Linked DNA regions of Homo sapiens: region 2 is linked to region 1. A link means that fine-mapping ties the variant in region 1 to the expression of a gene that starts in the linked region. Tissue or cell type: whole blood. Region 1 holds a variant in brackets; the other region holds the start of a gene. All regions are shown on one strand. Distances are from middle to middle.

The links. PIP is the estimated chance that this variant, and not a neighbour inherited with it, causes the effect.
Region 2: it holds the start of DMRTC2, and the variant in region 1 is fine-mapped to the expression of DMRTC2 in whole blood (TOPMed, PIP above 0.99).

What each region holds. Positions count from the first base shown.
Region 1 is chr19:41,807,226-41,815,324 of GRCh38, reverse strand. CEACAM3 (CEA cell adhesion molecule 3) reads right to left here. Exons shown (of 7, transcript NM_001815.5): 3 at 6,395-6,512; 4 at 5,308-5,360; 5 at 4,971-5,002; 6 at 4,428-4,493; 7 at 3,771-4,153. The coding sequence ends at 4,088. It also overlaps the pseudogene LOC100422623. Among named protein-coding and RNA genes, the nearest start is that of CEACAM3, 15 kb to the right of the region's middle. The variant T/G (reference allele first, on the strand shown) is at 3,573.
Region 2 is chr19:41,841,005-41,849,103 of GRCh38, reverse strand. DMRTC2 (DMRT like family C2) reads right to left here and starts at 4,062. Exons shown (of 9, transcript NM_001040283.3): 1 at 4,003-4,062; 2 at 1,452-1,679; 3 at 1,223-1,368; 4 at 576-652; 5 at 129-309. The coding sequence starts at 1,675. LYPD4 (LY6/PLAUR domain containing 4) reads left to right here and starts at 4,421. Exons shown (of 5, transcript NM_173506.7): 1 at 4,421-5,526.

The DNA.
Region 1 (8,099 bases):
TTGAATTTGTATCTTTGCATGTATGGTTGTACATTGATATTTCATGACTGCTCATAGCAAGGAAATTAGTGGTAACACAATTTTTGGTTTGTACTTTTTCCACATCAGAGTCCAAGACCACAAACTGTATTTTTTGATGTCTGGAAACAAAGTGGGTTAGGGGAACTGTACCCTACCTTGGTCTTTTTCTTTCTCAGTTAGGCTATGGCCCCACCCACTTTAGTGGTTTGAAGGGAATGTATTGGTTTTGTCTTTTTCTCTGCACCACGTAAAGTCCAGAAGTATCTTTAGAGGCCTGGAACTTGCTGCTCTTTCAAAAAACAGCTTTCTCGCTGGTCTCCAGCATTTCTGCCTTTCTCTCCTGTACATTAGGAGTTTCCGTCTGGTCACATAAGTCAGGGAAGTGAGCAGGGTGTAAGAGGATCTCATTTATTCCACATGTATTTATGAAGCATCCTTGTGCCAGACTGGGTGCTTGTCACTGGACTTAGCAGAGACCAGGACAGGTGTACTCCTGCCTCCTTAGAACTCACGATTCAGGGGAGGCTCTTCTTAATGTGACTAATTAATGATCAAAGGGTGTGCACATTAAAATTATGAGGTAAACATACAAATTCTATGTGTTGTACATGCTAATTTCACATAACAGGCAAGACCTGAGAAGCCCTCAGAATCACGGTCCTATGCCTTAACCCTATCTGTCAGGAGCCTTAACCCCACTTGTTAGGAGCTGTGGCCGTGCTCAGAAAAGATGACGAGGATGACCAAGACAGACACTGTAGGTGCGAGGACAGTGCAGAGAAGACCTTGTTGACTGCCCAGATGTGGGATGTGAAGAGGATTCTGACCCATCCAAAGCACGGGAGACTCTCGGTGGGGACCTGAGTGACCCTTCCACTGAGCACTCTGAGTGGTGTGTGTGTGTGACCTGCAGGGACACTGATTGACTGGACCTGAGCTCTTGGGAAGGGCAGGGGTGGGTCTGTAGGACCAGAGTTGCCTCTGTGGGTGGGAAGTGGTGGGAATGAGGAGGGTGAGGGTGACTGGGAGGACTCTGGTCTGTTTTTGTCTCCTGGAGAAGTTGGGCCCTACCCTGGGAGACAGATGTTCAGGCCTCCACTTGTCCCTCAGGAGGATTGTGTGGGAAGGACTGGCAGATGGCAAAGGCCTCTGACATGGGGCACGAGGCCTGGCCTGGAGTCACTGAGAGGATTGTTCAGGGGCTCGGTTCAGCTCAGCTTCCCAGGGGCTTAGCTGGAGCTCAGGGAACAGGATGCTGTGCTCAGGCAGTGCTCCAGGCTGGGTGATGGTAGTGGTTCCAAGGTCAGGCACGGGGGTCGGAAGTTAATCATGAAAAGTTCCCACTGTGTTGTAGGCAGAGACAATGGCTTGAGTCTCAGAGGTAGGGACATTCACTGGGAAACCAGAGCAGACTCAGCCTCTCCAAGGTCATACTTTGGGTACAGAAATCAGCCCTGCCAGGGGCGTCAACAACCTTTGCCAACAACCCTAACATTTAGTCATGTGCACAGGGCTCACAACAAATAAATTAGAGAAGAATCAGGTTCTCCCTCATTGTGTCTTTCTCAGGCAGAATAGACTGGGCAGCTTTTCCCGGCAGTTTCTTTCCATCTGTGCGCTCCCTGCTGCAGTGCCTGGGGATGACCCTTCCGTGGTCACTATCCATGGTGCTGATGTCCATGAACGATTGAAGGGCTGGTGAGTTGTGATCTTCCAGTCACATCTCTTTTATTCTTTGTTTTTCTTTTCTTTTCTTTTCTTTTTTTTTTTTTTTTTTTTTTTTTGAGATGGAGTCTCACTCTGTCACCCAGGCTGGAGTGCAGTGGCATTATTTTGGCTCACAGCAACCTCCACCTCCCAGGTTCAAGTGATTCTCCTGCCTCAGCCTCCAGAGTAGCTGGGATTATGGGCGTGCGCCAGCACGTGCAGCTAATTTTTGTAATTTTAGTAGAGCCAGGGTTTCGCCATGTTGGTCAGGCTGGTCTCGAACTCCTGACCTCAGGTGATCTGCCTGCCTCGGCCTCCCAAAGTGCTGGGATTACAGGTGTGAGCCACCACGCCCAGACACATCTCTTTTATTCTTAACAACTAAGCTTGTCACCGAGGAGAAGGTGGAGAGGTACTAGGGGCATGGAGAGCCCTCCGTCTCCCTCTCTCAGGACCTGGAGGGTGCTGGGACGTCACTGCAAAAACTGATGCCACAGTCAGGATAACCCTATCCAGGTGCCCATGTGTACTTTGTAGTGAACAATCATGATAAAATGGCCTTGAGAGGAGAGATGGATAGAACAAGCCCCTCTCAAAGATGCACACATCCTCATCCCAAGATCTGTGAATATGGCACATGGTCAAAGACACTTAGCAGATAAATGAAGGATGATGAGATGGGGAGATTATTGTGGTTTATCCAGGTGGGTCCAAAATAACCATACAAGTGAGACAGGGAGGCGGGGAAGTCAGTGAGGATGGAAGCAGAGCACAGAGAGGTTTCAAGATGCTGTACTGCTCGCTTTGAAGATGGAGGAAGGGGCCAAAGTTAAGGATGCAGGCGGCCTCTAGTAATTGGAAAAGGTGAGGGAACAGACTTTTCCCTGGAGCTGCCAGGAAGAACACAGCCAAGTGGACACGTTGTTGTTTTATGCCACTAAGTTAACAATGGAGTTGTCATCTCTGTTGCCTAGGCCAGCGTGCAGTGGTGTGATCAGAGCTCACTGCAGCCTCAACCTCCTGGGCTCAAGCGATCCTCCTGCCTCAGCCTCTTGAGTAAGTGGGACCAAGACACAAACCAACATGCCTGGCCTGTGGGAATTTGTCACAGCATCAACAGGAAACTGACACAAGAGACATCACCTTGTCTCATCTGACGATGTGTACAAGTGAGGTAAGGAGTCATTTAGAGCTAAATCCTGATGTAAATTTGCAGGTTGTTTTTCCTACTTCCCATCTCATGGCAAACAACCCTGGGCAGTGGCAGAATACCCTCAGGAACCGTGGCTCTGTGCTTTAGTGCAGGGACCAGCCTGATTGTGGGAAGGGGACACCTGGTCTGAGTGAACCTACATGAGATCATTACACTCCCCAGGGCCCTCAGGAGGGACAGAGAACTGCCGGCCCAGGTATGTGGTGGAGCTGCTGGTGAGGCCTGAGTGGAGGGCCCTGCAGGCCAGGGAGAAGAGGAGAGAGGTTGTCCCATTGCCATGGTAGACTGCGTGAGCTTTAGGTGAGAGAGCCCTGTGTCTCTGACCTGGAATCTCCTGTGTGGAGTGGAGGATTGTTCAGTGAGATCCACTCCAGGGGGTAAAGTGGGAACTGATGGGAAATGATGGGCTAGAGTCCCAGGTAGTGTCTGGGAGGATTTTACTCCAGGACTAAATTCTGGGTCTGTCCTCACCTTGATTACTCTGACAGGCCCTCTGTGTGTCCCCTGATATGGGTAAAGATGTCCTGAGCACTGGCCTTTTGGACAGAGAAGAAACCCAGTGGCCAGGGCTAGGCACCGTGGGTCCCTGGGGCAGTATGAGCACAGCCAAGCGCTCAGCTGGCTGGGCAGG[T/G]CTCCTGTGAATCCTGCCCTTTCCTGTGTAGGGTCCACCCCAGCCTGACTCCCAACCCCCTATTTCTGCCTCCCAGGGAAGAGAGACTGGGGTTGAAATAAGTTGGAGATGACATTTTCCTTGTGTGACCCAGGAGAGAATGGATATGGAGTTTCAGGCGAATTTTTGCTAAGTTCCCACTAGCAGAAAAACAGCTAATGAGAGGAAGGGTCCCCTTTATTCAGATCCTTTCCAAGTGACCCCAGGTGGGCCACAGGCCCATTCACTTTCCCTGCAAGCCCCCGCTTTCTGCGGTGATGAGAGGCCTTTGTCCTGACCCACCCAGGGCCTAGGGCAGGCTGTCGAGGTCTCCAGATATTCATCAGGGACCCCCATCCCTCCCTGCCCCCAGACACCAGTGTCTTCTCAGGACTTATAGCTGGTTCTCTGGCTCAGGCTTCATGTCCTTCCCCATCCCCAGGGCTGGGGGCCTTGGGGACTCTCCATCAACACACAGGAGCAGCTCCTGGAGGAAGCTAAGAAGCCACTTCTGCTTTGTGGTCCATCCGGCAGTAAATGTTTGTGTCATGTTTTAGCAATTCCTGTTAAAACAGAGAAGAGGCCTGGACCCCTCTAGTCTCCTCAGAACAGGGTGTGGCGTCTCCCAGGCTCTGGGCCCATCCAGGGCTGCTCTGGGGCTGAACCTGGCTGTGCTCAGGGGGTTCCTGCTCCCAAGCCCCTCCCTCCTCTGCTCGCCACCCCCGTTCTTATTTTCACAGCAGTTTCCTGAATCTCAGAGCTCAGCCGATGCCAGTAGGGGAAGATCCTGGGTCCCCTGGGGCCTGTGGGACCAGAACATCCGTGGCCCACACTCACCTCATAGATGGAAGCTGCTGTCCTGGGGTTGGGTAGGGGGGCCTGGGCAGTGGAGAGAGGGGACATCTGTGGACAGGGAGGGAGGGTCATGGAGGCCCAGCCTGGAAGTTTCCTGTCTCTGATTGGCCAGGATTTACTTCTCTGTGTTTACTTCTGGTCATTTCCCCTCAGGAGTGACCAGCTCTGCCCCTGAGCTCAGCCTCCCAGTGTGGACACAGCACCCTGACCCTTTTCCTGGCTGGGCCCACCCTGCACCCTTGTTAATGTGGGCCCCTGACTGATGGTCCCAGTGTCCACTCTGCACCTGCTGCACTCCAGGGGTCTCCTCAGGTGATGGAGGGTCCCGGGGAGGGGTCAGCACAGGGCGTGGGTGGTCCTGACCCTGTAGGGAGGCCCAGCTCCTGGCCAGGGCAGGGCTAGCCTTGTCCTGTGTGTTTTGGGGGAAGGTGGGTCTGTTCTGTGCTGGGGGGCTGATGGTCCCTCTGCCCAGAGCCTGCACAGCTGGGACCCCAGTAGAAAGGGGCTGGAAGGGGACAGGCTTACCGAGAAGGCAGAGCTGTGGGAGGGACCACGGCCTGGAAACAGAGACAGGAGTGAGCAGCAGGGTGGGAGGAGAGCCTTATCCCCTCTCCAGGAAGGCGTAGGGGGTCCTCAGCTCTAAGATACCTGAGCAGCTGAGGTTGGGGAGGTGACCCATGACCCAGAGCCCACAGGTGAGGGCTGACCCAAGCAATTGGGGTCCCCTGTGTGATGTTTTATGAGATCCTCCTTGCAGCCCCCGGGAAAGGATCAGAGTCTGCCTGGCAGTGACTGGCAGGAGCGGACACTGTGGGGCTGTCCTAGGGGTTCCCAGCCACACCTGGGCTGAGAGGACACTCACCAGGGGCAAGGGCTTGGGGCTGCTGCTCCTTGAGGTCACGCTGGATGCTGGTTCTAGGAAAGGTCAGGGTCATTTGGGAGGGTGCCAGGTTAAAAGCCACAACTTTGGAGTTCGAACAGGGGACAAGAAGGGAAACCCATTTTCAAGGATGGGCATGGAGACCTCCTGTCTCCCTCAGGTTTGTGTTAGGGGGAGCCCAGCAGAGGGGAGTTGAGGAAAGGCTTTAGGAACCCACATCTGTCCTGAGCAGAGGGGAAGGACCCTCAGGCAGATGCCGGGCCAGGAGAACATTGACCCAGGGACCCAGGAAAGGGACTGAGGACCCAAGGAAGGAAACAGACCACGAGGGTTTGCCTGAGAGGAAGGGTCAAGTCCCCAGAGGCAAAGCAGGGCCACGTGTGCAGGACACGGAGGGGACCGCAAGTGTCTTGGATTCTCCTGGAACTCAGTGTCCCTGCTGTGGCCAGACCCTGCACTCAGGGCTGGTGATGCTGAAATGGGACAGTGTCCTTGTCCTCTCTCTCAACCCCTTGGCAAGAGACACAAAGGACGCTCCAGGACATGCTGTTCTGAGGCCCAGGTTCTCCCATCTCACACCTCAGGGCCTATGGTTACCACATCAGCCATGGGGGGCACTGACCCCACCCAGCCTGTCCAGGCTGGTCCACTCCCCATTGTGTGACGGTGCCCAGGATCCGGAGCCTGCAAATCCCCCTCACTGTGTGGATGGATTCAATGAACAATGGGAGGTACCAAGTACAGAGCACGCCCTCCCTCCCTCCCTCCCTACTTCCCTCCCTCCTTCTCTCCCTCCCTCCAGGCAGCTGTGGCTTTGCTGTGTGAGGGAACTAGGGCCACACTCAGGGGTGGGGCCTTAATTGGGCCAAATTCACAGAGGAGGAAGCTGTTGAGGCAGCAACCCAGGGTCAGGAGCTGACGAGGGAGGAGCCGTGGAATAAGAGGGAAGGATCCCTGGGGACTTGGGAGGCCGTGGAGAGCCTGGCCCTGAATACAGGACAAGGTCTCCTTTCTTTTGGCCTGGAGTCAGCCTAGGGGGTGGGAGAAGGATGGGAAAAAGCTGTGGTACCTTCCAGTTTTGGCAAGGAGCAGGAAACACACCAGCGCGGCCACCAGCGCCACTCCGACCAGGACCCCGGTCACGATGCCGGCGACGGCCCCCACAGGAAGGCCTGGGGCATTTTCTTCTGCAGAAAGAAGAAGGCAAAGGGGATAGAGGCCCAAGTCTATCCCAGAGGAAACCACAGGGGCCTTGCAGGGAAGGTGTGCAGTCAGGGAAGAAGGAGATGCCATGGGGCCTGAGTGTAGTCTCTTGTGTTGTCCTCATCACAGATTCCCTTGCTTTCCATGGTGGCACCATTTTCTGCAGGCTTGACACACTGGGCGGCACCAACTCATACATTGTCCCAGAGGTGCCTGCACCTCACCCTGCTCCTGTGCCTTTTAGTCCCTCCTTCCTCTCGCATCATGCCTCTTCCCTCTGTTTCTCCTTTTCCATCCCATGACACTCACAAAGGGCAGGCCCTTGGCATCAACTCAATGCTGATAAGCAGGGATGATGTTCATTGACTGTTTTCAGGGGCCTTCCATGTGCCAGTTCCAGTGGGCACCAACCTACCTACAACTCATCTCATCCTTACATCACCTTGAGGGAGAGGGGGCATCACCCCCAGCTGCAGAGTTAGAATCTGAGACTTAAAGCACCTCAGTAAGTCAAGGAAGGTCACAGAACTCGTAAGTGATAAAACAAAATTTGTACAACATTCCAGGCTGGCCCCAAGGTCAGCTGTGAGAAATCAGAACAACAAGGGGAGGAGGGGTCCTGCAGAGGTGGAGTGAGAGGGCTCAGGGTAGAGTTTGGGATTTGCTTGTGTCCAAGACATGGGCTGGGAAATAAACTTCTAGGCTCTTTCAGAAAACTGAGTGGCTTTACCCAGGGCTCAGGGCCTATGCTCCAGGGATCCACTTAGCAGAGACTGTGATTGTCTTGACTGTGATTGTACTGAGGCCAGTGGCTGAGTTATGGGCGAGGCAAGCATAGGATCCACTCTTATCCACTGCGATGTTGGGGATAAAGAGCTTTTGTGTGTGTTGCTGGAGCATTCCACTGACAAACCAGGAGTACTGTGCAGGTGGGTTAGAGGCCATGTGGCAGGAGAGGTTGAGATTTGCCCCTGGATGGTAATAGGAGTCTGGGGGGGAAATGGTGGGAATGCCCGGTCCATCTGGAGTAGCGAGAATAAAGTCATAGATGATATCATCAAAGGGAAGGGGAAGCTCCTGGTCTGTGGAAGAGCCACAGTGTCCCTGTGAGCCAAGTCACAACCTTGAAGTCCTAACGAAACCCAATCTGTCCACTGAGTCTGGGTCTGAGATATTCACCTGTTTCTCCCATCACAGGCTGTGGACCCTGAGCCTCCCAGGACAGGAGCAGCCTCTCCCCTCCTATTCTTGGTCAAGGCTGGGTCTGCCCAGGTTTGCTTGGGACAGGAAGTGATGGCCAGCCTGGGTGAGAGTCTGAGTCCCTGGACTTGAGAGGGACTGAGAGGCCTGGCCTCTGGCTGTGTGGATTTGGGCTGGAAGCCTGGGCCACAGAGGAACAGAAGATACAGAGGACATTCAGCGTGACTGGGTCACTGTAGCTGGCACCCACTGGGTTCGGTATTTCACACTCATAGGGTCCTGTGTCATTCCTTGTGACACTGAGTAGAGTGAGGGTCCTCTTGTCATTGGACAGCTGCAGCCTGGAACTGACCGGGAGGCTCTGACCATTT
Region 2 (8,099 bases), 34 kb before region 1:
GTATAGGGGCCAAGGTCATAGTTTCTTTCCTCCCTCTCCCCACCTATGCTTTCTTCCTCTTCCCTCTCCAATATGTGGCAGATTGGCACTCAAATATATGTTGAATGAATGTTGAATTATCATCTTACCAGGGAAGGGAGGCAGAGAGACAGCAGGTTCTTGGTACAGCAGGCGGCACACCACTGGTGGTGGCATGGAGAAGCCTGGAGGCAGCCAGTGTCCAGGGACCCAAGGGCCAGGAGGCACCGGAGTCCAGGACAAGGGCGAGGCTTCCGGGGGATGGCTGAGCAGCAGAGGCCCACAGGAGTTCTGCAGGGGCAGAGGGCACAGGCTGGAGTTGGGTACAAGGCTGGAAAAGGATTGAGTGTATTCTGGGATACGGGCAGAACCCCAAAACTTTGGGGCTGGGAGGCCCTCGTTTTCCCCTCATTTTGCCTAGAGAAGAGCAGTGATTTGACTAGATTACATAGCAAACCAGGGCTGGGGCTAGAACCCAGGTGTTGAGGGCACAGAAGAAAGGGTCTGGGTAGGAACTAGGGTGGGGGACACTTTCTCAGGCCCCAGCCTCTCCTTACCTTCCCGGGGGGTGTCGGTGCCAGCAGGACTGCCCCATGGGGGGTCTGAGGCTGGGGTGCTATGTTCTCCTTTCCAGCTGTGAAGGACCAGGGAGAGCTCTAATGAGCCCTTTCTCCTGACCCCTATCCTACCCCAACCCCAGACAGTTCTCATCTCCCCCATCTAGCTCATTTTTTTTTTTTGAGATGGAGTCTTGCTGTGTCGCCCAGGCTGGAGTGCAGTGGCGTGATCTTGGCTCACTACAACCTCCGCCTCCTGGGTTCAAGTGATTCTCCTGCCTCAGCTTCCCGAGTAGCTGGGACTACAGGCATGCGCCACCAAGCCCAGCTAATTTTTGTATTTTTAGTAGAGACGGGGTTTCACCATGTTGGCCAGGATGGTCTCGATCTCTTGACCTCGTGGTCTGCCTGCCTCAGCCTCCCAAAGTGCTCGGATTACAGGCGTGAGCCACTGTGCCCGGCCTCTAGCCCATTTTTGACCCACAGAACTCGCTGCATTCTCTCAACGCTGGGACAGCTGAGGCCGAGGGAGTAGAAACCCTTAGTTCAAGGTCGTACACCAATTCAGCAGCAGGACTGGGCCTCTTTTTCCCATACCTGCCTCCTGTACCCAAACTCCTGCCCCATCGCTGGTCAGAGACACTCACAGGGGACCTGTGGCTGAGTGGTTCCCTTTCTGAAGTGGTTGGGAGCTTTGGGAGAGGCTTCCCCTCTCCTCATCAGGTGCTTCTTTAGCTGCGCCTCCTGCTGCCTACGCAAGGCCACCTGGGCAGCCATGACCCTGCGGCGCTCCCTAAAAGTGGGGAGTTGCAAGTCAAAGGTCAGCCACCCTTTGGAGGAGGCTCATCCTCCTCCCCTCCCAGACCTCATACTCACAGGATGAGGACACATTTGTGACACTCGCAAGCCTGGAAGAGGCAGAGGCGCTTGTGGCCCTTGAGATGGGCGGTGACACCATGGTTGCGGCAGCGGGCGCAGGTTGGAGAGCGGCTGATGGCTCTCCTGGGGATCAGCTCTGTGCTCTGGGGGTCTCTGGTCTCATCCCAGGGGGCAGAGTCTAAGGGGCAGTGGTAGCCAGCAGGCATGTCACTGGGTTCCATGGATCTAGGGGCAGGAGTGGAAGGTAAGCATAGCCAGGTGGGCCTGCCCCTAACAACCCTCCTGCCCTGGAGACCACACCTGCAGGTCTCCATCCTGCCCCTCTTTAGACCCCGCCCTGATTCTGGCTTCTTTCCCAGCTTTCTCCCCTCTTTACCCCATGACATTTCTCAGGTATCTTCCTTCTTCAGAAACCCCTCTCCTCTTCCTCTTCTGTGTTCTTTCTTTTTTTTTTTTTTTTTTTTTGAGATGGAGTCTCACTCTGTCTCCCAGGCTGGAGTGCAGTGGCACGATCTTGGCTTGCTGCAACCTCCACCTCCCGGGTTCAAGCGATTCTCCTGCCTCAGCCTCCTGAGTAGCTGGGATTACAGGCAAGAGCCACCATGCCCGGCTATTTTTTTTTATTTTTGTATGTTTAGTAGAGATGGTGTTTCACCATGTTGGCCAGGCTGGTCTCGAACTCCTGGCCTCAAGTGATCTGCCTGTCTCGGCCTCCCAAAGTGCTGGAATTACAGCCATGAGCCACTGCACCCGTCCCCCCTTTTTTTAATTTAAAAATTTTTAGGCCGGGTGCGGTGGCTCAAGCCTATAATCCCAGCACTTTGGGAGGCCAAGGCGGGTGGATCACAAGGTCAGGAGATCGAGACCATCCTGGCTAACACAGTGAAACCCTGTCTCTACTAAAAATACAAAAAATTAGCTGGGCGTGGTGGCGGGTGCCTGTAGTCCCAGCTACTCCAGAGGCTGAGGCAGGAGAATGGCGTGAACCCGGGAGGCAGAGCTGGCAGTGAGCCATGATCGCGCCACTGCACTTTAGCCTGGGTGACGGAGCAAGACTCTGTCTCAAAAAAAAAATTTTTTTTTAATTGTTTTTTATTTTTATAGAGACAAGGTCTCATTATGTTTCCCAGGCTGGTCTGGTCTCGAACTCCTGGGCTCAAGCGATCCTCCTGCCTTGGCCTCCCACAGTGCTAGGATCAGAGGCATGAGCTGCTGCGCCCGACATTCTGTATTCTTTCAATTCAAACATTCTTTTCTTTCAATCCAAACACTTTCCCACCCACACACACATCCTAGGTTCCAACCTACTCATGTCCTCACATACCCCTTCAGCGAGTCCTACATCCCCTTTTCACAAGCACCCTGTTCCGTCCCAACAGTGTTTCCTGGCATCCTCTTCAACAATGCTCACCCCACTCTCATGCATTCATCCAATGCCTACCAGTAGTTTTATGCCCCTTTCAATTCTTAGTTCAATTTCAATTCTTAGTCTCATCTATGCCCTGCAAAGCAACTGCCTCCTTGCATTCCTTTAGTCTTATTTTGTTCTTGTACCCCTTTAAATCAGAACCCTCTCTTGCACCCCCAATAATTACCTTATTCTCATGGATTCCCTGCTCCACTTTCTTTTTTTTTTTATTGACAGGGTCTCGCTCTGTTGCCCAGGCTGGAGCGCAGTGGCGTGATCATGGCTCACTGCAGCCTCCACCTCCTGAGCTCAAGCAATCCTCCTGCCGCAGCCTCCCCAGTAGCTGGGACTACAGGCTGGAGCCACTATGCTTGGCTCCCCTGTCCCACTTTCTTTCTTTCTTTTTTTTTGTTTTGAGATGGAGTCTCACTCTGTAGCCCAGGCTGTAGTGCAGTAGTGCAATCCCGGCTCACTGCAACCTCCGCCTCCTGGGTTCAAGCAATTCTCCTGCCTCAGCCTCCCGAGTACCTGGGATTACAGGCCTGTGCCACCACGCCCGTCTAATTTTTGTATTTTTAGTAGAGATGGGGTTTCACCATGTTGGCCAGGCTGGTCTTGAACTCCTGACCTGCCTCAAGCGACCTGCCTGCTTCGGCCTCCCAAAGTGTTGGGATTACAGGCATGAGCCACCGCACCCGCCACCTGCCCCACTTTCAAGTTATTTTCCTTCACTCCTTCATTCATTCCACAAATGGTTACTGAGCCCCTGTCATGTGCTAGGCCCTGATCTGGGCCAAAAACCTTCTCCTTGGGGCACTAATGTCTCTCTTGCGCTCACACCTTATTCAGGTTTTTGTGTAAACATGTGAAGTCACTGTGTCCAGCGCTTCCTGCTCCTGTGGCCACTACCAACAATTAATTTCATGCATGTCCCCCTCCCCCCTTCCCGTGCCCCAGGGAGCGAGTGGGGAACCGGGAACGCGCCAAGGGGCCCGCGAGGCAGGGAAGGGGAGAGGGGGCGCGAGGGCGGGAGGGGCGCGAGGGGGAGGAGAGGGGATGCCTGGGTTAGGGAGTCCGGCTAAGAGGGAGGAGGACGGAAAGGCAGGAGGGACCGTGTTCGTGCAGCTAGTTCACGGTTACCACAGCCTCCAATGGAGTCAGATTCAGTCAAGAAGACGCCCAAAGACACTGTGAGAAAGTGGCCAGAGGAACCGCCAAGCTCGCGCTGCTTTTCTTACCCTGTCTCACAAAGACCAATGAACTTCAAGCATCGCCTCTCTCAGCCGAGGCAGACGACCAATGCGGTTTGAGATCCTGAACTGATGTCCCGCCCCTTCCCTTCTGCCAGCTTCTTGGCGCACAAGACTATCAGTCCCACCAATAGCGCTTCGAGTTGAGCCTCGCGCCACCGCTGCCTCTCCCTCCGCACGTCCTGCCCGCCCAGACTGTCTTCCCCCTTTCGAGGCAGGTGGCCAATGGGGCGTCGAGTACCCCTTATTGGACCGAGGCTGGCCCCGCCCCCCAGGAACGGCCCGCCTGGCCCCGCCCCTGGGGCGTTGACCAAGCCCGGTCTGTGCACGGGTTGCCTCGTTTCTGGCCTTCCCTTGCCTTGTACCTCGACTTCGCGCGTGGCTTGTTTTTGCTGAGTGGAGGCCTGCGTTTTCTGTTATGTCTCTTCCGGTGCCCCACAACTCCTGAGCTACCCTTCTTTTATGCGTTCTCTCCCAGCGCTGTGATTACCGGGTTGCTTACCGGGCCCTCCTTCCTCAGATTGCACCCCTTTCCTTGTGTCTCTTCTTGTCTTTGTGTCGGTTGTGATTTTCCTAATCTCTGATTTTCCTTTTCTCTCGGACGCTCTCCCTCTTCGGACCCATTTTCTCCCGTGCTTCATGCCCTGATAGCCTGGCCCCTTCCCGGCTTCCTTCGCTACCGGGGACGCCTCTAGTTTTTCTGAATTTCTGGCTGGCTCCACCCTCCGCGTTCATCTTCCTCAAGAGTTCGCCCCTCTGGGGGCTCCTCTGTGTAATCGTCGCCTTCTCTGGGTATTTCTGTGAACTCCGTCTCACACCATCCCGCCATCTTCTCTGCCTTGGCCCCTTTTCTCTGTACAGCCAGCTCTGTGTCCTTTTCTTCTCCCCCTCTAAAATCGACTCCTCTTCTCCCTGAGAGCCCCACCTTTGTGCCCCACTCCTCATTTTCCTACGCCTCCCTCTCTCTGCTGGTCCTCTCTCTCCCTGCAAGGTTCCATTCCATCAATTTGTTTGTCTTTTGTAGGGGTGGCATCCCCTCTGACTACTGCTCCATCCTTTTTTTTTTTTTTTTTTTTTTTTTTTTTGCTTGAGGATTTCACTTCAATCTTTTCTGGTTGCGTCTCCACTTGTACTCAGCTTGTTAGGTCCAGGTCCAGTTGTTCTGCATCTGAGGCTGGCGTGTGCTGTCTTCTCTGATTGGCCTAATCTCCCTCACCCCCGTGAGATCTGTTGTCAGCCTTCGTTTCTCTTTCCTGTGTCCCAGCTTTTCTGCGGGTCTTGGCACCTTTCTTGGCCACAGATTTCTGGGTTACAGAGCATGTGTGTCTGAGGCATTGCAGGCAGAAAAGGGTGGCCGACGTGACCTCTAGCTGGACTGCTGGGCAGGGGAGCTGTCCTAGATAAAATTGGAAAGGTTGGGTGGCGCTTATCTGGGGTGGGGTGGGGTGTGGTCGGGGGAGGCTTAAAGGCCAGCTAAAGAGGTTGAACTTGATCCTTTAGGTAGTGGAGAGAGAGTGAGAGGAAGTGTGTGTGGGAGGGAGGGATAGTGGTAGAGGAACAGGGTAACCAACGATTATAAAGAGCTTAGCATTTGCCTAATACTTATGGTAATAATTTTATTGATCTTCACAATGACCCTATGAGATGTATTATACTTCATTTTATAAAGAAGGTAGTAGGCTCTGAGTTCAACAAATTGGACAGCTAGTAAATGAAGGGGTAAAGATTCCAACCTGGGTCTCTGAGGCCAAGGTCAGTGATCTTTGTACCCCCTCCTACACTGTTATTTTCCACCAATTCCCCACTTTCATTCCCTAACCTTCTTATAGGCAATTCTCATTCTAAGGTGGTTAATATGTATCTTTTGGTTTGTGTGTGTGTTCTCCCAGGATGTGTGTAGTGTTGTTGTTGGGGTTTTTTTTTTTTTTTTTTTTTTTTTTTTTTTTTTTTTTTTTTTTTAGCGATGGGGTTTTGCCATATTAACCAGGCTGGTCCAGAACTCCTGGCCTGAAGTGATCTGTCTGCCTTGGCCTCCCAAAGTGCTGGGATCACAGGCATGAACGACCACACCCGACCTCTGTTTGAGTTTTTAATTTATGCAAGTGATATTATGTTATATACTATTTGTAATAATCAGCACTGTGATTTTACAATCTATCCATGTACACATTCTGTCATTCTGTCATGATGTGTACTTTTTTTTTTTTTTTTTTTTTTTTTTTTTTTTGTTTAGACGGAGTTTCACTCTTATTGCCCAGGCTGGAGTGCAATGGTGTGATCTTGGCTTACTGCACCCTCCACCTCCTGGGTTCAAGCAATTCTTCTGCTGCCACAGCCTCTTGAGTAGCTGGGATTACAGGCTCCCACCACCACACTCGACTAATTTTTGTATTTTTAGTAGAGTCAGGATTTTGCCATGTTGACCAGCTTGGTCTTGAACTCCTGACCTCAGGTGATCCGCCCACCTCAGCCTCCCGAAGTGCTGGGATTACAGGCGTGAGCCACTGTACCCTGCCTCACATCCTGTGTACATCTAATCAACTTCTTCCAACTCCTGCGTGATATTCCATAGCGTACATCCCCAGCATGTTTTGCATTCACTTGGTCTCAGAGAGGGAAGCTCCCATTGTCTCAACCTACCATCACCACAATAATGCTGCATTCTCTGGGCATGGGAGCTCATGCCTGTAATCCCAGCACTTTGGGAGGCCGAGGTGGGTGGATTGCTTGAGCCCAGGAGTTTGATAACAGCTGGGGCAACATGGAAAAACTCCATCTCTACAAAGCTGGGTGTGTTGGCGCACACCTGTAGTCCCAGCTATTTGGGTGGCCGAGGTGAGAGGATTGCATGAGCCTGGCAGGTGGGGGCTGCAGTGAGCACAGCTGTCCTCCAGCCTGGGCAACAGAGCGAGACCCAGTCTCAGAAAAAAAAAATGCTGCATTATTGTGCATGTTCCTTTGTAGATGAAGGTGGACATTTTTGTAATACCTATGTAGGGTATACTGGAAATGGGTATTTATAAACCCAATTTGACCATGTAGTGTCAGACCCCTGCAATGCTGCTTTGGGCCTGAGATCCTGGTCAGAACTCTCAACTCCTTTGTTTCTCAGAGTCCAGAAATAGTGTTTTATTCCCCAGCCCTCCAAATAATGCCATGAGCATCAGGGGCCAAGGGTTCCTTTATCCCCACATACCTGCCAACACTTGTCTTTTCCCAGCTTTCTGATCCTTACCAGTCTGATAGATGTACAATTTGACAGATTGCATTTCCTTGGTTATTGCTGGGTTTGTGCATTTCTTCACTTTTTTTTTTTTTTTTTTTTTGAGACAGGGTCTTGTTCTATTGCCCAGGCTGGAGTGCAGTGGCATGATCTCGGCTCACTGCAACCTCTGGCTTCCGGGTTCAAGTGATCCTCCCTCCTCAGCCTCCCTAGTAGCTGGGACTGCAGGCACGTACCACCACACCGGGCTAATTTTTGTATTTGTAGTAGAGACAGTGTTTCACCTTGTTGGCCAGGCTGGTCGCGAACTCCTGACCTTGTGATTTGAGGCTAAAGCAATCCTTCAACATTAGCCTCCTGAGTAGCTGGGACTACAGGCACTCCCATGCTTGGCTAATTTTTAAACTTTTTTTTTTTTTTGGTATAGACAAGGTGTTGCCCAGGCTGGTCTCAAATTGCTGACCTCGAGCAGTCCTGGCTCAGCCTCCCAAAGCACTGGAATTACCGGCATAAGCCACTGTGTTGCCCAGGCTGGTCTTGAACTCCTGACCTCAAGGGATCCTCCTGGCTCAGCCTCCCAAAGCACTGGGATTAGAGGCATGAGCCACTGTGCCGGCCTGCATCTTCTCCCTTGATCAGATTTGCCAGCGAACTAACTAAATCTTTTCATAGAATGGATCTTTTTTGTAATAATGTTTGTTGTTGTTTACTATTTCATTGATTTCTGCTATCATCCTTATTTCCATTCTTTTTTGGGTAGGAGA